Linked DNA regions of Homo sapiens. The protein of the gene in region 1 purifies or fractionates together with the protein of each later gene. This does not show direct contact. Each region holds a gene or a part of one and is shown in the gene's direction. Other genes may lie near its edges. The genes, in order: TPRN, OGFOD1, QRICH1 and PPP1R2.

The links.
Region 2: the proteins of TPRN (region 1) and OGFOD1 purify together in Homo sapiens (affinity purification with mass spectrometry; one large-scale study listed by BioGRID and IntAct). This does not show direct contact.
Region 3: the proteins of TPRN (region 1) and QRICH1 purify together in Homo sapiens (affinity purification with mass spectrometry; one large-scale study listed by BioGRID and IntAct). This does not show direct contact.
Region 4: the proteins of TPRN (region 1) and PPP1R2 purify together in Homo sapiens (affinity purification with mass spectrometry; one large-scale study listed by BioGRID and IntAct). This does not show direct contact.

What each region holds. Positions count from the first base shown.
Region 1 is NC_000009.12:137,192,673-137,198,814, reverse strand, and holds part of TPRN (taperin), read left to right. Parts: intron 1-6,123; coding exon 6,124-6,142. UniProt on the Homo sapiens protein: Essential for hearing. Required for maintenance of stereocilia on both inner and outer hair cells. Necessary for the integrity of the stereociliary rootlet.
Region 2 is NC_000016.10:56,454,554-56,458,053, forward strand, and holds part of OGFOD1 (prolyl 3-hydroxylase OGFOD1), read left to right. Parts: intron 1-3,500.
Region 3 is NC_000003.12:49,082,723-49,089,053, reverse strand, and holds part of QRICH1 (transcriptional regulator QRICH1), read left to right. Parts: intron 1-6,331. UniProt on the Homo sapiens protein: Transcriptional regulator that acts as a mediator of the integrated stress response (ISR) through transcriptional control of protein homeostasis under conditions of ER stress.
Region 4 is NC_000003.12:195,524,717-195,531,047, reverse strand, and holds part of PPP1R2 (protein phosphatase inhibitor 2), read left to right. Parts: intron 1-1,146; coding exon 1,147-1,254; intron 1,255-3,145; coding exon of another isoform or gene 3,146-3,290; intron 3,291-6,151; coding exon 6,152-6,229; intron 6,230-6,331. UniProt on the Homo sapiens protein: Inhibitor of protein-phosphatase 1.

The sequences.
Region 1 (6,142 bases):
TGGAGCCCCCTGACTTGGGCCGTGGGGACAGCTGGCCTGCTGTGTGCCTTGCCAGGCTGCTGGAGAGCGACAGGGCAGACAGTGCTATGTCCCTTGCCAGTTGTTGTGGCTCATCTGGAATTAGCTGGGCGGGTCTGTCCCTTTGTGAGTCCAGCTGAAAGAAGCAGACCTGGGCTTGTGGGTTCCTCCCTGGGCTTGGCTTTGAGGGGTGGCCTCACATGGTCTCCTGGAGGCCCGCTGCATGGGCGCCAGGCGCCACGCTATGAATGGGAAGGGCCAGATGATCGGGGTTGGCTGGATCCTCGCATCACAGTCAGCCTTGGGGTGCAGCCCACCAGCCAGTTGGGAGAGGGCCATCAGCTCCCCAGAAGGCACACTGGTTGGGAGCTGGGCAGGAGTGCCGTGTATGCCTGTTCTGGGCCTGGGAAGCTTGCTGGGGAGAAGGGGCCTTCGGAGGCTCTGAGCCAGCCAGGCAGGGGAGTCTCCCTCTTGGCCAGTGGCCTGGAATCCTCTGGGCACAGGAAAAAAAATCTTCAGATTCTTTCTGGTAATTCCTGCACCTGTATTTGTTCCCTGGGGCAAATTCCAAGGGCAGCTCCATGTGACTTCCCGGTCTGCGGTGACCTGTCAGGAAGCAGGTGTACCTTTCCTGGGGACTGAGGGGGGGCGCCTGGGGCGCCTCCCTTGGGTCTTCCTATCCAGGCACTGCCCCAGAGCCATTGCTGGCTAGGCTCACCCCTGAGGCGGGCTGTCCTCCAGCCTCAGTTTCCCCAGGCTGGGGATGGGACCTTGCAGGCTCCCTCAGCAGATAGGCTGCTGCCTCCCTCTGTTTGCTTCCTGCCCGGGATTGGCCTTGGCATTGCGCCTCTCCCTGTGCCATACTCCCCTCCTGGAACCAGGGCGTTGGTGCCCCTGCCGGCTCTATCTGCCGGCCCAGGCATCCGTGCTAACCCTCCTGAGGTGCTTCCAGTGGGGGCTTGGGGCTGGGTCCAGGGCCCCTCCCACTCCTGGAGCCACGTGGGTCTATCTCCCCGACCCTCGCCCGAGCATCACCCCAGCCCATCAAGGTGGGGTCAGTCTGATAGCCACAGCCTCTCTCCTCCAGCTCCTGTCTGCCTCTCCCTCCCCTGCGTCTGTACCTTTGGCCCTGGCTGCTGTGTGAGGTGGGCACCTCCTGGGCTTGCCCCAGAGGTGGCAGTGGGGACAGCTCCCCCTTTGTAGAGAGAAACTGCGCCTCAGCTTGGGAGTCAGACGGGGTCATGGGGCTTGTGGGGCGAGTACGGAGTTCAGGTTTCTGTTTCTAGAACCCCTCCCCTTAACCTGTGTGGCCATCCCTGGGAGCCTGGCTTCTTCCTGGGACTTGAGGCCACTGCCTAGAGTCTGGCCATCTTGCCCTCAGAAGGGACAGAACTGGGCTGGGCGCGGTGGCTCACACCTTGTAATCCCAGCACTTTGGGAGGCCGAGGCGGGTGGATCACGAGGTCAGGAGTTCAAGACAAGCCTTGCCAAGGTGGTGAAACCCCGTCTCTACTAAGAAGATATAAAAAAATTAGCTGGGCGTGGTGGCGGGCGCCTATAATCCCAGCTATTCAGGAGACTGAGGCAGGAGAATTGCTTGAACCCGGGAGGCGGAGCTTGCAGTGAGCCGAGATCGCGCCATTGCACTCCAGCCTGGGCGACAGAGTGAGACTCTGTCTCAAAAAGAAAAAAGCAAAGAAGGGACAGAACTGTGGGGGTCATTTGCGGCTGGGTTAGGGTCAGAAGGGCAGGGTGGGGGCCGGAGGGCCAACAGGAGCAGGAAGATGCAGTGGGGGAGAGGCTGAGCCTGGGAAACAGGCCCTGGACCAGCAGGAGGGAGGAGCTCGGGCCAGCCTGAAGGGGTGGGGGTCCAGATGGACGATACCTGGCATGGCCAGGTGGCCCGGGCAGGGCCCTGCCAGAGCAGCATGACCTGCTGGCTGTGACTTCCCGCCTGGGTACAGGCCAGCTGCCCTGCCTGGGAAGAGCCAGAATGTCCATCAGGAGGGGACAGAGGCGTGGGGCTGCCCTGCCTTTCAGAATGGCTTGCTGGCCTCGGCACGGTGGGCTGTGGGGCAGGGCTGTCCCATGTACTCTGTGGCCCCTGGGCCAGGAGCACTCACTGGTGGGGGTGCGAGGTGCCCCTGCGGGTCCTGTGCCTGGCCTTGTCTGACCACCCTGGCCAGCCTTTTTTTATTTTTTGTTTTTTGAGACAGAGTCTTGCTCTGTCGCCCAGGCTGGAGGGTAGTGGCAGGATCCCGGCTCAGGGCAAACTTCATCTCCCAGGGTTCAAGCGATTCTCCTGCCTCAGCCTCTCAAGTAGCTGGGATTACAGGCGCCTGCCACCATGCCCAGCTAATTATCGTATTTTTAGTAGAGACGAGGTTTTACCATATTGGCCAGGTTGGTCTCGAACTCCTGACCTCAGATGATCCGCCTGCCTTAGCCTCCCAAAGTGCTGGGATTACAGGCGTGAGCCACCGTGCTGACCCCAGCCTTTGGTTGGGACCACTGGCTGTGACCCCCGGGCGTGGGGGTGGAGTGCAGGGATTGCAGGGCCCGGAGTCTAGCAGGACCTGACTGTGGGCCAACGGCTCACTGTGCACCTCAGCGGCTGGCGGTGCTGCTGCTTTTCCTGGGGTACAGGTGAAGGGCAGCTCTTCAGTGGAGTTGTCTGGGTGGTGGGAGTCGGTGAGGGGCCTGCCCCAGGGCTGGCTGTGCCTGCACAGGGTATGATACCCTTGCCCGCCTCCGAGGGGTGCAGCCCTGCTCTGGGCAGTGGGGAGCTGCTGGCCTGTGTGCCGGGGTGGGGGCCTGCCTGGCAGGCACAGGCCCACTTAAGTTATCCATTGGCAGAAGCGGCAGGTGCCCCGTCTTGCAGGGCTGAGCTTGGAGCAGACTGCTGTGTGCTGCAGCCACGCCCGGGCTGCTTTCCTGGAGGGTGGGACACCCATTCTCATCCTCACACCTGCCTCCCTTGAGACTCGGCGCTGTAGCTTTTCCTCTTCGTGGAGCACCACCTGGCCTGGCTCCTACCTGTCTGGCGGCCCCTTCCCGTCCCCTCTGCCCTACTCCCCTCCTCCCCTCTTGGCTCTCTGCCCAGCTGGAGCGTGTCAGTGTCCCCAGGGCTCAGTCCTGGACACCCAGGGCCGTCCGCCCTCACCTGCTGTGCAACTTCCGCCTCCACTCCCAAGGCCTCGCTCTCTGATCCTTAGACCCAAGAGCCACCCTGACATCTGCCCTTCCTACTGACACCACCTCCTGGCCAGCACCAAGCCCCAGGCTGGGCTCCTCCCTGCCTCTACCCCTGTGCAGGCAGATCCTGGGTGGCCAGAGGCTCTCACTGTTGTTGGCTGAGTCCCTTCTTGTCAGTTTTCCTTTCCTTCTCGTCTCTCCGCCAGCTCTTCCCATAGGTGCCGCCTAGGTGGTCCTTCTGAAGCCGGGAACCCCAGGAGCGGCCTGGACGCTCCTCCCTCAGCTTTCTCATGGGTGGAGGCCGTGCCTGGCGCTGGGGCCACACTTGACTCAGGGAGCACCCAGCTTCCCGGGAGCCTGCTCTGGGCATTGCACTCGTGCAGCCTGGTCTAGGGTCCGGCCACCCGTGGGAGCCTTGGCTGGGGCTGCGTGGGGGATGGGAGGCAGGTAGCTGTGTGCAGGGAGGAGGGAGAGGCGGGGCTGGGCTCAGCTCACACCTCCATCTGGGCAGGTTGGGGCTGGCTGCTTGGCCCTTTGTCCCAGGTGGAGGCCAGGCCCTTTGGTAACCAAAGCTAGGTGTGCACAGGCAGGGTGGGTGGAGCGAGAACAGAAGGGTCCTGAGAAGCCGGGAGGCTCTGCTGGGAGGCTGGGCTGAGCTGGGACCCACCTGCCTGCTCTGTTGGCTGTGCCAGGCAAAGTCCCTGATAGGCTGCGGCCAGGTGCGTGCGGTCCCAGACCCTGGCCACACCCTCTGCCCATCCTGCGTCTCGGGGTCTTCAGGCTGCCCACCGTATGAGTCACGGGGTGTCCTGTCCCCACAGTGGGAGGGGAGGGCTGTGCGAGTCAGCAGGCACCAGCCCAGCTGAGGAGACCTGGGGAGGCAGGACGTGACCAGAGCCCCGGGCCCCAGCTGAGGGCAGACAGGGGCTGCCTGTCCACCCCCCGCCCCGCACCGCCTGGCCAGGCTGTACCAGGCTCAGGGCCCATGTGCACCCAGCCCCCGCGGCCCCCCTGCTGGGACCGGTCATGTGCACGAGTGAGGGCACTAATCCCGCGGCCCTGGCAGCCAGCCCTTCTGTGTTCTCAGCCGTGGGGGCTGGGCCTGGAGGGCTTCGGGGTCATCTGGGTTAGCTCCACATATCCAGGGCGACTGGAAACCCCATTTGCTGCTGGACTTCGGGGCTGTGGGAGAGCTCTAGCCACCAGCCCTGTCCTGCCTTGAGCACCTCCACCTGGGGTATCTGTCCCAAAGCATGAGTCTGGGAGGGCCGGGTGACCCCCTCCCCAAGTGGGCTGGCAGTGGGTGGGTGCCTGTGAGGTCTGTCCCAGCCTCTCCCTGCCTGGCCTCCTGTGGGATGAGCGTTGGAGGGCCAGGTGGGCCTAGCCACAGGCAGGGCAGTTAAGGGACAGGAGCGGGTGCTTTCCTCCTTGTTTTGTCTGGCCCAGGTGGCCTCCCCCTCCCCCGCTCATCCATGCAGACGGCTGGGGTGCCGGGGCCTGGGGTAGGGGTGCAAGCAGGCAGCTGAGTTGCCCAGCAGGGCTCTGTGTGAGCTGTGCTGAGAGGGGAAGCTGGGGGTTTGGGCACAAAGCGTGGCCCCCCAGCTGTGGGAGGCGGGGGTATTCGTGGTGAGAAGGGACCTGAGGGTACACCTGGCTGTGTGGGCCGTGTGGCCGCTGTGGGAGAGAGCATGATGGCAAGAGTGTGTGCCCTTGGCCCTGTCCTGGCAGCCCTGTGTGGCCTCCTCGGCTGCCTCCTGAGAGGCCGTCTCGTCCTGTGCCTGGCTGCGGTGGTTCTCTGCCTGGGGCCCGGCTCCTGCCTCCGGGTCCTTCTAGGGGAGGAGGAGGAACTTGAGCTGCTGGTGTCCTGTGCCCAGGAAGAGTTTAATATTTCGAGCTCCCTCAGGGCTGCTTCCATCTGCTGCAAGCGGGGGCCGCTCATATTCATTAGGGACCACTGGGGCCGGGCTGAGTGCAGCTGAGCAGTGGGAGCTCGGCTGTTGTGGGGAGCTTAGCCCCATGCAAGCCCCGTTCAGGGGAGGTGGAGAGTCCTGACCATTGGTCCCCACTGCCCCCATTACCCCTGGGAACCAGCAGCCCTGCCTGGGCTTCAAGGCCACTGGGAGAAGGAAAGAATTTGCTCAGATGTGAAATCTTGCAGCCTACGAAGTGGGGATGGAGGACGAGGGCCAGAGGGGCAGCAGGGTGAGGAAGGGGTCACTGCTGGGGTTGCTGGCACCCAGGCTCAGTGGAGGCAGCCCCCTACTCTGCACAGCCGCAGGCCAACTCTCAACTATGTTAGGTGGGTGATGGTGCCTGAGGCTACTGCCTGGCCTTGACGGCTCACAGAGGCCCCTGTTCACAGTGGGGGGTCCATGCTCTGCTGGATTGTCCAGGCATCCAGTAAGCCAGGACATGAACTTGGCTTTAGAGAGAGGCCCCAGACACCAGCAGGAGCTGCCTGGAGCCTAGAGTGCAAGGCCCCTGAGGGGACAGCCTCTTTTCCACCCTGTTCCTGCTCTAGAGCTGCTTGGTGGGAGGGGATGTGTCCACCCCAGTTTCCCCCCAGCTGGCACTCTGCCCAGACAGCAGAGCAGGAGGGGCCTGAGATGGTAGCTCCAGGAGCTGGTCTAGAGGCTTCTGGGGACCCAGAGGCTTTGGGCTCCTGGTCCTGGTCAGCGTTTGGTCCCTGGCTGGAATGGGGAGGGGAGGTTGACCCCCAGGGTGGAGGGATGGACGCCTGCAGGGTCCAGCTGGAGAGCTCTGTGCCCCCTCCTGGAGCCCCCGGAACGGTTGATGGTGTGTCTGGCGCCCCACTTGGGTCAGCCTCATCCTGAGGGCTGAACCTGAGCCCCTGGCATCACTGTGCCCATGTGGGCCCTCAGCCCTCGTTCACGTGACTCTCACTCCCAGATGAAGATCTCCTTCAACG
Region 2 (3,500 bases), on another chromosome or scaffold:
AGAAATACAGGTCATTGGTTTCCCCAGTTTGGGGGTATATCTTTCAGTACATGAATCCTTTGTAAACCTCAGGGACATCTGTGCTTCAAATTGGGGGGGGAAAAAAAAAAGAAAGATTAAAAAGATGAAGAATAATTTTTTTTTTTGCATTTTCCCATTTTATTTTATCTGGGATAAGAGAGTAAATAACGAATTTCTCTCTCTTATTCTTTTACACTAGAGCTGATTGGTCAGATGGTTGTATCCTGACCTTCCCCAGATCTTTCTGTCTTTGGACCTTATACACATGACTGAATTAACCAGGATAAATACATGAAAGATATGACTCTTAATAATTCAGAAAGCTGAAAACTAAACTGCTTTCCATGGTAAGGTTGCACAGGTTAATTAAAAACCGCAGTTACCTGCTGTTGTGATTATCGCACCCTTGGCCTCTTGTTGATTTGGGGCCATACGCATCTGATTATTAAAATTGAAACATCACAATAATTTTTACTTCATGCAATTTGGAAGATTAAAAATACTGGAAGATGGCCGGGCACAGTGGCTCATGCCTGTAATCCCAGCACTTTGGGAGGCTGAGGCGGGCAGATCACAAGGTCAGGAGATGGAGACCATCCTGGCTAACACAGTGAAACCCCGTATCTACTAAAAATACAAAAAATTAGCCAGGCGTGGTGGCACGCCCCTATAATCCCAGCTACTCGGAAGGCTGAGGCAGGAGAATCGCTTGAACCCAGGCGGTGGAGGTTGCAGTGAGCTGAGATCGCGCCACTGTACTCCAGCCTGGGTGACAAAGTGAGACTCCACCTCAAAAAAAAAAAAACAAAACTGGAAGATATAAGGCAAAATAATAAAAAGAGCCTTGGGTGATTGAAAAAAAAAAAGGAGCTGCCATTACTTTGGATCCACATGGAAGTTTGGTGAAACTCTACTGTGAATAATTTTTACTGTTGATCCCTTTTGGACAGGAACTCTTCACCCTAAGACAGTAGATGTAAAATCTGGTTTCATTCTCCTGCTCCTTTAATCCTCATCCATGCTCTTTTCTTTGCTTGTGGTATGAATTGACTTGATAATTGGGTCTCTGACATCTTCCAACTCCCATAACCAACTCTGTCATTAGGACTTGCCCAGTATTCTGTATTTTTTAAAGCAAGCATTATTGAGTGCATACTTTATGCCATGCTAAGTGCTTTATATTTATTCATTAAATCCTCAAAACAATCCCATTACTATACCTGTTTCACAGTTGAGGAAACTACATTAGTTTTTCTTTCTCTCTGGATCATTCCCTTCAACATAACAAAAAGAAAAAAAAAACTGTTCTTTTCATAAGAAAAAAACAAAGTTCTTGACCTAAGTTTCCCTTCAGCTACCATCCCATTGCTGTGCTTCTCTTGACAGCAGAATTTTATTCTTATAAGAGTTGTCTGCACTGTGTCCAGTTCCTCTCCTGTCAGTCTCTGGTAAGCCCATTTTAATCAGGCTTTCGCTTGTACTACTGCACTGAAACTACACTTGTCAAGATCACCCATAACCTCCACATTACTAAATCTGATAATCAGTTTTCAGTTCTTCCTTGTCTCATCAGCAGCATTTGACCTACTATATCACTCCTTCCTCCTGGAGACTTTTTTTTCACTTTACTTTCAGGTTACCATGCTCTCTTGGTTTCTCTTCTTCCTCAGTGGCTATTTCTTACCAGCTTCCTTTGCTAGGTTTTCCTCTTCCACCTGACTTCTTAATGATAGAGTATTCTGCATCCTAATGCTTGGCCTCCTTCCCTAGGTACACAGGCTTCTATTGGGTCTCATGGCTTTGCCTCCTCTTTGATGTCTAATGAGTTTCTGACACTTAAGTTCAAAACTAAACTTCTGGTCTTCTCCCTCTAAATCTGCTCCACCTGCAGTTTTCCCCATCACAGTTAATATCAGCTTGATCTTTCCGAGGGCTCAGGCCAAAAAGGAGGTCATCCTTGATTCCTCTCTCACCTTATATCCAGTCCATCGTGAAACTCTGCTATCTCTACCTTCAAAATACAGGCAATCGCCACATGATATTTTCTGTCAGCAACAGATACGATAGTGGTCCCATAAAGTAACACCTATTTTTACTATACCTTTTCTATATTTAGATATGTTTAGATACACAAATACTTCCTATTGTATTGTCTATAGTATTCAGTAGAGTAAAATGCCAGGTTGTTCGTGGCCTGTAAACAATAGGCTATACCATATAGCCTAGGTATATATTAAGTTCTACCATCTAGATTTATGTAAATGCACTCGATGATGCTGAAACAACAATGAAATCACCTAACAATAAATTTCTCAGAGTGTAAATGACATACCACTGTATATCCAGAGAAGCCCACTTCTTACTACTTCCACTGCCAAAGGCCAACACCTGGTTCAAGCTATCTGTGTCTCCCCGGGATTATTCTATTAGTGTATCAACCATTTTCCCTTCTACTGTCACCTGCTTAGACAGTCACTGAAGTCATTGTATTCTTTTAAAATGTAAATAGACCCAAGATAATTAAAAATATGTAAAAATATGTTCACATAAAAACTTGTGCACAAATGTTCATAGCAGCTTTATAATTGCCAAAAAGTGGAAACAATTTAATGAATAAACAAAATGTGGTATACCCATAGAATGGAATACAACTCAGCCATTAAAAGGAATGACGTACTGATACTACCACAACATGGATGAACCTTGAAAACATTAGGCTAAGTGAAAGAAGTCAGATGCAAAAGGCTACATATTATATGATTCCATTTATATGTAATGTCCAGAATAGGCAAGTGGTTGCGAGGAGCTGGGGGGAGGAGAGAAGAGGGAATGACTAACAAAATTGGCACAAGGGTTTCTATTTGGAGTGTTAAAAAGTTCTGAAATTAGGAAGTGCTGATGATCGCCCAACATTGTGAATATACTAAAATCCAATGAATTATACACTTTCAAGAAATTGAAATTATGTGGATAATTGTGTTATGTGGATATTATCTTAAAAAATGTTCTCAAAAACTCCAATGACTTTTTTTTTCTTTTTTTTGCTTCAGAAATCTTCTCATTTCTTTAAGTCAAAGCCAAAGTACTTAAAATGGCTTTAAGTCACCTATTAGGTTTTTTTTTTAGACGGAGTTTTGCTCTTGTTGCCCAGGCTGGAGTGCAATGGCGAGATCTCAGCTCACTGCAACCTCCGCCTCCAGGTTAAAATGATTCTCCTGCCTCAGCCTCCCGAGTAGCTGGAATTGCAGGCATGCACCACCACGCCTGGCTAATTTTTGTATTTTTAGTAGAGACAGGGTTTCACCACGTTGGTCAGGCTGGTCTCGAACTCCTGACCTCATGATCTGCCCGCCTCGGCCTCCCAAAGTTCTGGGATTACAGGCATGAGCCACCGTGCCCGGCCCCACTATTACCTTTTTGGCCTCATCTCCTACTGCCCTCCCTCTCCCTCTCTGCTCTTGCAATAGCTGGAATAGGCC
Region 3 (6,331 bases), on another chromosome or scaffold:
GAAAATAGAACCGTGATGAAAATGCCCCTAAACCAGGGACTCCTCTGGCATGGGGCATATAAATGGCCTAATGGGATAACTTCTATCACAAACCCTGCAGTTGGCTAGTATCCTTAAAAATCGAAATATGGGTGGAACACAGTGCCTCATGCCTGTAATCCCAGCAGTTTGGGAGGCCAAGGTGGGAGGATTGCTTGAGCCCCGGAGTTGGAGACCAGCCTGGGCAAGATGGCAAGACCCCATTTCTACAGAAAAATAAAAATAGCTGGATGTGGTAGCATGGACCTGTAGTCCCAGCTACTCGGGAGGCAGAGGCAGGAGGATTGTTTGAGCCCAGGAGTGTGAGGCTGCAGGGATCTATGAATGCACCACTGCATTTTATCCTGGGTAGTGGAGCAAGACCTTGTCTCATTAAAAAAAAAAAAAAAAAAAAAACAGACAAAAGCCTGGTGCAGTGGCTCAGGCATGTAATCCCAGCACTTTGGGAGGTCGAGGGGGGCCGTGGAAATGAACTCCTCACCTGAGGTCAGGAGTTCGAGAACAGCCTGGCCAATATGGTGAAACCCCGATTCTACTAAAAATACAAAAAAATTAGCTGGGCTGGGTGGCGTGCGCCTGTAGTTCAAGCTACTAGGGAGGCTTGAGGCAGGAGAACCACTTGAACCTGGGAAACGGAGGTTGCATTGAGCCGAGATGATGCCATTGCACTCCATCCTGGGTGAGAAAACGAGACTTCGTCTCAAAAAAATAAAAATACAAAGAAACAAAACCCAGGCAAAAGAATAGAAATACGTCAATTCTGGTCGGGCACGGTGGCTCACGCCTGTAATCCCACCACTTTGGGAGGCCGAGGCGGGCAGATCATGAGGTCAGGAGATCGAGAGCATCCTGGCTAGCACGGTGAAACTTTCTCTCTACTAAAAAATACAAAAAAATTAGCTGGATGTGGTGGCGGGCGCCTGTGGTCCCAGCTACTTGGGAGGCTGAGGCAGGAGACTGGCGTGAACCCGGGAGACAGAGCTTGCAGTGAGCCGAGATTGTGCCACTGCATTCCAGCCTGGGTGACAGAGTGAGACTCTGTCTCAAAAAAAAAAAAATAAATGAAATAAAATGAATATATTCACATGGAAAAAAAATCAATTTCCATTTTAAGGAGTCATGTCTGTCTTATAAACATATGGAGTTATTTCAAAGAAGCATAGAAGACATTGTTCTTTTTTTTTTTTTTTTTTTTTGAGATGAACCTCCGCCTCCTGAGTTCAAGCAATTCTTCTGCCTCAGCCTCCCGAGTAGCTGGGACTACAGGCGCATGGTACCCCGCCTGGCTAATTTTTGTATTTTTAGTAGAGATGGGGTTTCACCATGTTGGCCAGGCTGGTCTTGAACTCCTGACCTCGTGATATGCCCGACTCGGCCTTCCAGCGTGCTAGGATTACAGGCATGAGCCACTGCACCTGGCCTATTTTTTTATTTTTATTTTTTTTAAATTTATTTTTCTTATTATTTTTTGAGATGGAGTCTTGCTCTGTTGCCCAGGCTGGAGTGCAGTGGTGCGATCGTGGCTCACTGCAACCTTCGCCTCCCGGGTTCAAGTAATTCTCCTGCCTCAGCTTCCCTAGTAGCTGGGACTACAGGCACCACACCTGGCTAATTTTTGTATTTTTAGTAGAGACAGGGTTTCACCATATTAGCTAGGCTGGTCTCAAACTCCTTGTGATCTGCCTGCCTCAGCCTCCCAAACTGCTGGGATTATAGGCGTGAGCCACTGTGCCTGGCCTATTTTATTTTATTTTTTTGAGACAGAGTTTTGCTCTTGTTGCCCGGGCTGGAGTGCAGTGGCGCGATCTCGGCTCACTGCAACCTCCGGCTGCTGGGTGCAAGTGATTCTCCTGCCTCAGCCTCCCGAGTAGCTGAGGTTACAGGTGCCCACCACCACGCCTGGCTAATTTTTGTGTTTTTGGTAGAGATGGGATTTCACCACGTTGGCCAGACTGGTCTTGAACTCCCAACCTCAGGTGATCCGCCCACCTCAGCCTCCCAAAGTGCTGGGGATTACAGGCGTGAGCCACTGCACCGGGCCCCATATGAATGTATTCAAACTGGACTAAGCTATGAAGAGCCATTGTTGGAGTAGATGTGAACCTTGAGGGGCCTCAAAGCCCAAGGAAGAGGTAAGGTTCTGAGGCAGTTCAGACTTCTTTTAGTCCATCACGGATTGAAGACTCACTCTGCAGAGCCATACAGGGGGCCCAAAAGAGGTATCAGGGATAAGAAACCCAAGAAACAGTGATTGCAATAAGATCTTCCCTTGGTACCTAAACGGAAAAAAGAAAAAAATTAGCAAACAGACCTATAGAAATGTAATAGATTGTTGTTTTGGAGTAACCTTTGTCCATGGTACCATCTTATGTTCTAATAATAAAATAATAAAAATAATAACTCATGTAGTGAAGAATTGCTGTGCATCAGGCACTATGCTAAGCTCCAGTAGGAGGAAATACAGAGGAGCCAGGCGCAGTGGCTCACACCTGTAATCCCAGTTTTGGGAGGCTGAGGATCACGAGGTCAGGAGATCGAGACCATCCTGGCTAACACGGCGAAACCCCGTCTCTACTAAAAATACAAAAAAATTAGCCGGGCGTGGTGGTGGGTGCCTGTAGTCCCAGCTACTTGGGAGGCTGAGGCAGGAGAATGGTGTGAATCCAGGAGGTGGAGCTTACAGTGAGCCGAGATCGCACCATTGCACTCCAGCCTGGGCGACAGAGTGAGACTCCATCTCAAAAAAAAAAAAAGAAAAAGAAAAAGAGGGAGATACAGAGGAGATACCAGTGAACAATTTGATTTTATACCAGCAAAAATGTCCAGGGTCTGTTTAAGGGAGGGCTGGCTTTCCTTTATTGTTACTTATTTTTTTTTTTTTACAATGCAGCTATATTTAAAAGCGTTTAGAAGTAAATGCTTGTTTACAGACCTCATACACCCCAAGAGCATTAGAGTATTTTCTTTTTTCATTATTAGTCTCATCAGAGTCCCAGAAATTGGGAACACTCAGATATCCTCATGGCTGCATGTTTTTCAGAAATACTTTAATTAATTTCTTTATTGCTTCTTACTAAGTCTTTTACTTGGAGCTAATTAAGAATCTTTTGTCTCTTTTAGAAGTTTCTCCATTTCTCTTTATTACGAAGGCTCAACTTTTGTGTCTTATGTGCAGCATCTTGAAGTTAAGTCTTCATTATTTTGTACAAGTTTTTGGTATTTTATGGTTTAGTTTCTTTTTCTTTTTTTTTTTTTTGAGATGGAGTTTTGCCCTTGTTGCCCAGGCCGGAGTGCAGTGGCATGGTCTTGGCTCACTGCAACCTCCACCTCCCAGGTTCAAGCGATTCTCCTGTCTCAGCCTTCCGAGTAGCTGGGATTACAGGCACGTGTCACCACACCTGGCTAATTTTTTTTGTATTTTTAGTAGAGGCGGGGTTTCATCATGTTGGTCAGGCTGGTCTCAAACTACTGACCTCAGGTGATCCACCCACCTCGGCCTCCCAAAGTGCTGGGATTACAGGTATGAGCCACCTCGTTCGGCAGGTTTAGTTTCTTTCAGATTTTGAAAGAAAATCGTACTATGATCAACCAGAATTACGTGTCTGTTACCATTACTACACTATAACCACTTGTATTTTTAGTAGAGATGGGGTTTCACCGTGATAGCCAGGATGGTCTCGATCTCCTGACCTGGTGATCCGCCTGCCTCGGCCTCCCAAAATGCTGGGATTACAGGCATGAGCCACCTCTTTCGGCCGGTTTAGTTTCTTTCAGATTTTGAAAGAAAATCATACTATGATCAGCCAGAATTATGTGTCTTACCATTACTACACTATAGCCACTGTGTAGAAAAAGATGATTTTTTTTTTTTTGAGACGGAGTCTTGCTCTGTCGCCCAGGCTGGAGTGCAGTGGCACGATCTTGGCTCACTGCAAGCTCCACCTCCCAGATTCACACCATTCTCCTGCCTCAGCCTCCCGAGTAGCTGGGACTACAGGCGCCCAACACCACACCCGGCTAATTTTTTTGTATTTTTAGTAGAGACGGGGTTTCACCGTGATAGCCAGGATGGTCTCGATCTCCTGATCTGGTGATCTGCCTGCCTCGGAAAGTGCTGGGATTACAGGCGTGAGCCTTAGATTAATACCACTTGTGGAAAATTCAGAAGAGTGTTTAACAGAAGAAACTTAATTACTCTGTGGTTCCATCATCTAGGCATAACTACTGTTAGCATTCCTTTTTATCATTTTTTGAGGTGGAGTCTCACTCTTTCCCCAGGCTGAAGTGCAGTGGCGCAGTCTCAGCTCACTACAACCTCCGCCTCCCGGATTCAAGCAATTCTCCTGCCTCAGCCTCTAGAGTAGCTGGGATTACGGGTGGCTGCCACCATGCCCTGTTAGTTTTTGTATTTTTAGTGGAGATGGGGTTTCACCATGTTGGCCAGGCTGGTCTCACAATCTTGGCTGGATGTGATGGCTCACGCCTGTAATCCTAGCACTTTGGGAGACCGATGCTGTGGATCGCTTGAGGTCAGGAGTTTGAGTACATCCTGACCAACATGGCGAAATCCCGTCTCTACTAAAATACAAAAATTAGCTGGGCATGGTGGCGGGTGCCCGTAATCCCAGCCACTTTGGAGGCTGAGGCAGGAGAATTGCTTGAACCTAGGAGGCGGAGGTTTCAGTGAGCCAGGATCGTGCCACTACGCTCCAGCCTGGGCGACAGAGCAACACTGTGTCTCAATAAAAATAAAAATAAAAAAGAATTTAGGCTGGGTGTGGTTGCTCATGCCTGTAATCCCAGCACTTTGGAAGGTGGAAGCGAGTGGATTACCTGAGGTTAAGAGTTCGAGACCAGCCTGGCCAACATGGCAAAACCTCATCTCTACTAAAAATATAAAAATTAGCCGGATGTGGGCCGGGTGCGGTGGCTCATACCTGTAATCCCAGCACTTTGGGAGGCTGAGGCGGGTGGATCATGAGTTTAGGAGTTCAAGACCAGCTTGGCCAAGATGGTGAAACCCTGCCTCTACTAAAAATACAAAAATTAGCCAGGCACGGTGGCAGGTGCCTGTAATCCTAGCTACTCGGGAGGCTGAGGCAGGAGAATCGCTTGAACCTGGGGGGCACGGAGGTTGCAGTGAGCCAAGATTGTGCCTCCTGGGTTCAAGCGATTCTCCTGCCTCAGCCTCCCAAGTAGCTGGGACTACAGGTATGCAGCACCACACCTGGCTAATTTTTTTTTTTTGAGATGGAGTCTCACTCTGTCACCCAAGCTGGAGTGCAGTGGCATGATCATAGCTCATTGCAGGCTCAAACTGCTGGGATCAAGCCATCCTATCCTCCTGCCTCGGCCTCCCAAGTAGCTGGGACTACAGGCGAGAACCACCATGCCAAGCTTAGTATTGATATTTTCTAATGGTTTTATGGAATTTTTCCTACCTCAAGCTTGTTTGTCTTTTAAATTATTACTATTATTTCTAAGAGATGGGATCTCACTGTGGTGCCCAGGTTGGAGTGCTGTGGCTATCCACAGACAGGATTCTACTACTGCAGTATGGAAGTTTTGACCTGCCCCATTTCCAACCTGGGGTGGTTCACCCCTCTTTAGGCAACCTGGTGATTCCCTGCTCCCTTGAAGTCACCATATTGATGCTGAACTTAGTGTGGACACCCGATTGGCATAGAGCACTATAGCCCAGAACTCCTGGACTACTCAAGCAATCCTCCTGTTTCAGTCTCTTGAGTAGCTGGGACTGCAGGCATGCACCATCATCCCAGGCTCCCCCCCCCCCTTTTTTTTTTTTTTTTGAGACAGAGTCTCACTTTGTCGCCAGGCTGGAGTGCAATGGTGCGATCTTGGCTCACTGCAACCTCCGCCTCCCAGGTTCAAGCGATCCTCCTGCCTCAGCCTCCCAAGTAGCTGGGATTACAGGCATGCTCTACCATGCCCAACTCATTTTGTATTTTTAGTAGAGACGGGGGTTCTCCATGTTAGTCAGGCTGGTCTCGAACTCCCGACCTCAGGTTATCCACCTTCCTTGGCCCCCCAAAGTCCATAGTGCTAGGATTACAGGCGTGAGTCACCACACCTGGCCTTTTTTTCTTTTTTTTTTTTTTTGAGACGCAGTCTTGCTCTGTCGCCCAGGCTGGAGTGCAGTGGTGTGGTCTCGGCTCACTGCAAGCTCTGCCTCCCAGGTTTACGCCAGTCTCCTGCCTCAGCCTCCCGAGTAGCTGGGACTACAGGCGCCTGCCACCACGCCAGGGTAATTTTTTGTATTTTTAGTAGAGAC
Region 4 (6,331 bases), on another chromosome or scaffold:
AGTTCAAGACCAGCCTGGCCAACATGGTGAAACCCCGTCTCTACCAAAAATACAAAAATTAGCCAGGTGTGGTGGCAGACACCTTTAATCCCAGCTACTCAGGAGGCTGAGGCAGGAGAATCGCTTGAACCCAGGAGGCAGAGGTTGCAGTGAGCCGAGATCGTGCCATTGCACTCCAGCCTGGGCGACAAGAGCAAAACTCTGTCTCAAAAAACAAAAATAATGGCCCGGCCTGGTGGCTCACACCTGTAATCCCAGCACTTTGGGAGGCCAAGGCAGGCAGATCACGAGATCAGGAGTTCAAGACCAGCCTGGCCAACATGGTGAAACCCTGTCTCTCCTAAAAATACAAAAATTAGCTGGGCGTGGTGGTGCGCGCCTGTCATCCCAGCTACTCGGGAGGCTGAGACAGGGGAAGCGCATGAACAGGGAAGGTGGAAGTTGCAGTGAGCCGAGATGGCGCCACTGTACTCCAGCCTGGGCAACAGAGTGAGACTCCGTCTCAAAACAAAACAAAAATAATAAAGTACTTAGAGAGAACGTCTATTGCTCTTCAAGTAGGTTTGAATACACCATTTCTGAGCAAACCTTTATTTTTCTAGATTAGAAATAAACAGAGCTGTAATTTATTTGCAATCTAATGATTTAGTGGTGTCTGAGTTTGATGAGGTTTTCTCTATAGTTTTATTGTTTGAATCTTTATGTTCTGAGTGTTAACAGATATCCCAGAAAGAAATTATGCCAAGGAAGTACTCCTGTTGTGTTTTTTACCGAACAGTTACTGATATATAGATCAAAAATGCCTACTGACTTCAGCGAATGTATAGATTTTGACTTGCATTATTTTATAGGCCAAATGAAGGCTAAGCATGTCATAGTATGGTAATGTTTTGAATGCCTGATATAGATACTAAATATTGTGTTTTTAATATGTGGGCACTAGGTGTTCTATATTTACTGACATTTTATTGTAGTTACTTAATGGTTTTTACCCTGAGTCAGCTTCTATTCCAAGAAAGTATATGTGAAAATAGAGGTTGGCCATCAAATAGAAGTTGAAATGTTAAATTTGGACATTTGTGAATTTTGATATTCAGGTTTATCTTTTTCTGCATTGGGAAAAACGTTTTTTCTTTTTAATTTTAGCAAAAAATCCCAGAAGTGGGATGAAATGAACATCTTGGCGACGTATCATCCAGCAGACAAAGACTATGGTTTAATGAAAATAGATGAACCAAGCACTCCTTACCATAGGTAATGTTACGTAGACGTCATTCCTCTTGTGACTTACTTCCATTTTGCATTTCATATGAACGTCTGGATAACAGCCTATTTGAATTTGTTTTATTGTAGATTTGTTACTGGAGCACTAGTGAAGTCAGTAACCTAACTGCAATTTGTTTAGTAATGGTTTAAGTGATGTGTAAGTTTAAAATTAAGAAAGCCATTTTGTACATTATAATGGTAGTAGTAAATGTTTATTTGTTGCACCTCAGTGGTTGCTAGCTACTAATGGTGCATATATTAGTTTTAACTTCCATGAAAGGAAGATGAGATATGGGCTTGTTTGCTTCCCAAGTAGAAATCTGGGGTTTACTCAGTCTCTTTGCAGAGAAGCATAACTGCATGGATGGTAACCCACTGAAAGATAGGTGTCATTATTACTGTTTATGTCTTCATTTTTTAACTTAATGTAATATTGTTGTTCAGATCATTACATGTAATTTTTGACAATTTCAAGTCTCAGAATTTCCTAAATGAATTGTGAAATTACATTACGCAGCAGTAACCAGTATGAAGACAAAAATAATGCAAGAAGCATTATGAGAAGATGAGGATTCTAAATAGGTATAGATACCTAATTAAGATAATACCTTGGGCCGAGCACTGTGGCTCACGCCTGTAATCCCAGCACCTTGGGAGGCCAAAGTGGGCGGATCACCTGAGGTGAAAGACCAGCCCGGCCAACGTGGTGAAACCCCATCTCTACTAAAAAAAAAAAAAAATACAAAAATTAGCCAGGCATGGTGGCGGGCACCTGTAATCCCAGCTACTCGGGAGGCTGAGGCAGGAGAATTGCTTGAACCCGGGAGACGGAGGTTGCTGTAAGCCAAGATCACACCATTGCACTCCAGCCTGGGCGACAAGAGCAAAACTCTGTCTCAAAAAAAAAAAAAAAAGATAATACCTTGGCTGGGCATGGTGACTCTTGCCTGTACTCCCAGCACTTTGAGATTACAGAGGCAGAGGTGGGAGTATTGCTTCAGGCCAGGAGATCAAAACCAGCCTAAGCAACATAGTAAGACTCTTTCTACAAAAAAAAAAAAAAAAAAAAAAAAAAAAAATAGTTATGCCCTACCTACCTTGTATTGAAAAAAATAAAAGATTTCCAAGATTAAAATATTTTGTCATTGAATTAAGACAGCATAAATCCAAAAGTTACCATTAAAATAGAGGTAACTGCTGTTTCCATTTGTTCTGTAGTGAAAGAAGAGTTAAGAACTACTGTATTTTAAGTCAGTGGGTGAAAACTTTGGAAGATAATTTGAAATAACCTGTTACTAACAAAAACAGTAAAAATAAAAAACTTGAAGATATTAAAGACTGATGAGCATAAAAAGAAATAATGAAATAGGTACAGATGCTGAAACTCAATACTGATGAAATTTGAGTGAAGAAATACACAGTTTTTTGTGGTATATATGTATGTACCATGGAATATATATAAAAAGGAACAAAATAATGGCATTCACAGCAACCTGGATGGAGTTGGAGACCATTACTCTAAGTGAAGTAACCCAGGAATGGAAAACCAGACCTTGTATGTTCTCACTTATAAGCGGGAGCTAAGCAAAGGCATAAGAATGATACAGTGGACTTTGGGGATGGGAGGGGTGAGAGGGGGTTGAGGGATAAAAGACTACACATTGGGTGCCGTGTACACTGCTCGGGTGATGGGTGCACCAAAATCTCAGCAATTACCACTGAAGAACTTACCTGTGTAACCAAACACCACTTGTTTCCCAAAAACCTATTGAAGTAAAAATAAATTGAGGGGAAGAAAAACAATAAAATTACAATTAGTTAAAAAAAAATACGCATGCTAAAAAGAGGTTTATATTCTTATTTTTCTCCTAAATTGCAGGTATATACTTTAAAAATCTTAAAAAAAAAAAAAGATACAAGATCTGGCTATGTTGCCCAGTGCAGTGGCTATTAACAGGCACAGTTATAGCACACTACAGCCTGGAACTCCCGACTCAAGTGATCCTCCCTCCTCCGCCTCCCAGGTAGCTGACTATGGGCACACATCACCGTGCCCAACTTCTAAAATGTATATTAAAACCTTTATTGTACCAGAATCCAAAATCAGAGTGTACTTTCTTTTTACTAAATGTAGTGGCCATCCGTCACTCACTTGTGTTAGTTGGGGATAAGTATCCTAGGAGAATTAAGATCAGACATGATTTAAAAAAATAGTTGAGGCCAGGTGCAGTGGCTCAACGCCTGTAATCTCAGCACTTTGGGAGCCTGAAGCAGGAGGATCGCTTAGCCTCCCAAAGAATGCTGTTTTTTATTTTTTATTTTTTATTTTTTTGAGACAGAGTCTCACTCTGTCACCCGGGCTGGAGAGCAGTGGCACGATCTCAGCTCACTGCAAGCTCCATGTCTCAGGTTCAAGAGATTCTCGTGCCTCAGCCTCCCAAGTAGCTGGGATTACAGGCACCCACTACCACGCCTGGCTAGTTTTTGTATTTTTAGTATTGACAGGGTTTCACCGTGTTGGCCAAGCTGATCTCAAACTCCTGACCTCAAGTGATCCACCCACCTCAGCCTCCCAAAGTGTGGGATTACAGGCATGAGCCACCACGCCCTTCCCCAAAGAACTCTTGCCCAGGAGTTCAAGACCAACCTGGGCAACAGAGTGAGACTCTTATCTCCACAAAAAAAATTAAAACAAATTAGACTAAGCACAGCAGCTCACGCCTGTAATCCCAGCACTTTGGGAGCCTGAGGCGGGTGGATCACCTAAGGTCAGGAGTTCAAGACCAGCCTAGCCAACATGGTGAAACCCCGTCTCTACTGAAAATACATAAAAATTCCCAGATGTGGTGGTGGGCGCCTATAACCCCAGCTACTCGGGAGGCTGAGGCAGGAGAATCACTTGAACCTGGGAGGCAGAGGTTGCAGTGAGCTGAGATCGCGCCATTGCACTCCAGCCTGGGCAACCAGAGCGAAACTCTGTCTCAAATAAAAAAAGTAAAATTATCCAGAGGTGGTGGTGTGTACTTGTAGTCCCAGCTAGCTAGGAGGCTGAGGCAGGAGGACTGTCTGAGCCCTGGAGGTTGTAGCTGCAATTAGCCATGATCACGTCATTGCACTCCAGCCTGGATGACAGAGGGAGACCTTATCTCTAAAGAAAAAGAAAAAAAATTTCAGAATAGCTATGGCCATTATTTTTTGACTGTTTATAAATATAATTTGAATGGTAGATATTTGCCATTCAAATAACCAGAAAAGTTATTTGGTCCCTAAGTAATTGAGGCTATGTGCATGCAGAGATAACCTGTGTCCTGCTTTTATCAGTTCACTGCTCAGTTTTATCATTTCTTTCCATGACTTTCTTTTTTCTTTTTGAGAGTTTCATTTGGCCAGCCATGGTAGCTCATCCTTGTAATCCCAGCACTTTAGGAGGCTGAGGTGGGAGGATTGCTTGAGCTCAGGAATTGGAGATGAGCCTGGGCAACATAGAGAGACCCCGTCTCTACAAAAAATAAAAAGAATTAAGCCAGGAATGGTAGCACATGCCTGTAGTCCCAGCTACACAAGAGGCTTAGGTGGGAGTATCACTTGAGCCCGGGAAATTGAGGCTGTAGTGAGCCGTGATGGTGCCACTGTACTCCTGGGTGACAGAATGAGACCCTGTCTCAAAAAAAAAAAAAATTTTATTTAAGTGAAGATGCTTTTTATAGAAACATCATGTCTTATTATCTAAGAATCTCACAGTTAGTATACAAGAAGTTATTGCTTCTGTATACATGTACATATATAAACATAATTCAGTAAATTTTACAACTAGAATTTTCTATAGAACGATTCTATAAATTAACAAAATGTTTATTTTACCTTACTTTGCTTGATTAAACTCAATAACATAGATCAATTTCAACTTCCCTTAGAAAAAAGAACGTCATCTAAACTATAGACTTACTTGTCACCTTAATTAACCAGGAAATGTATAAACTGGCAGTATTTTATAAATAGCTGAGTTCTGCTTTATATACTTTGCAGTGGCTTAAGAATTAAGGTTGCCCATTTTTGCATTGAAGTGGGGAGCAAATTTTTCATTAGAGGGTAGAGTGAGAAAGCTAAATCACTTGTAAACTTCCGAAATTAGATCTTTGGGATCGAATTTTGTTACTTTACTCAGTCTTGTGTCTGCGTAGATCTTTTGTCTCTATCTTAAGATTGATGTAGAAATACATGTTCTAAAACCAGACAGTGATTTACTTTGCATTACTTGTTCCTTCCCACTGGATGGAATAATTGGAACTTTGTAGTATTTTTTTTTCCAGATCATTTACGTTTTCAGTACAGTTATTCCTCATTATCCATGGAGGTTTCAGGACCTCCCTCAGATACCGAAATCCTCAGACACTCAAGTCTCTGATATAAAATGGCATTGTAGATGTATATAATTATGCACATCCTCCTGTATGTGTTAAATCATCTCTGTGTTAGTTATATTACCTAATAAAATGTAAATACTGTGCAAATAGTTGTTACACACTGTATCATTTAGGGAATAATGATAAGAAAAAAGTCTACATGTTTAGTACAGAGGAAATTTTACTTTTCTCTGGCTATTTTCAATCCACGGTTGAATTCATGGATGTGGATCCTGTGGATATGGCAGGCAGACTGTATTTATGTGTTTTTTTTAATCATTTGGAGTCTTTTCTTGATTGGGTGCTGTACTTTTAAGTATTTGTATTGAATAGGAACTATATAAAGTTAAACCTCAAAGATATCAACAGAGCTATAAATATATTGATATGTTAAGTAGGTTGATGGAATTGTTTTTCTCCCTTGTTTTTGTGGCTGAAAATGTATGTTTCAGGTATTAATTACAATGTGCTTGTCATACTAGTATGATGGGGGATGATGAAGATGCCTGTAGTGACACCGAGGCCACTGAAGCCATGGCGCCAGACATCTTAGCCAGGAAGTAAGTACTAATGACCGGAGCACATTTTCACTTAGGCTGTTTATAATCGTGCAGAGTTGAAAGCAGCCTGCGTGGCTGTCCCTGTATGAGCGGGAAGAAAAG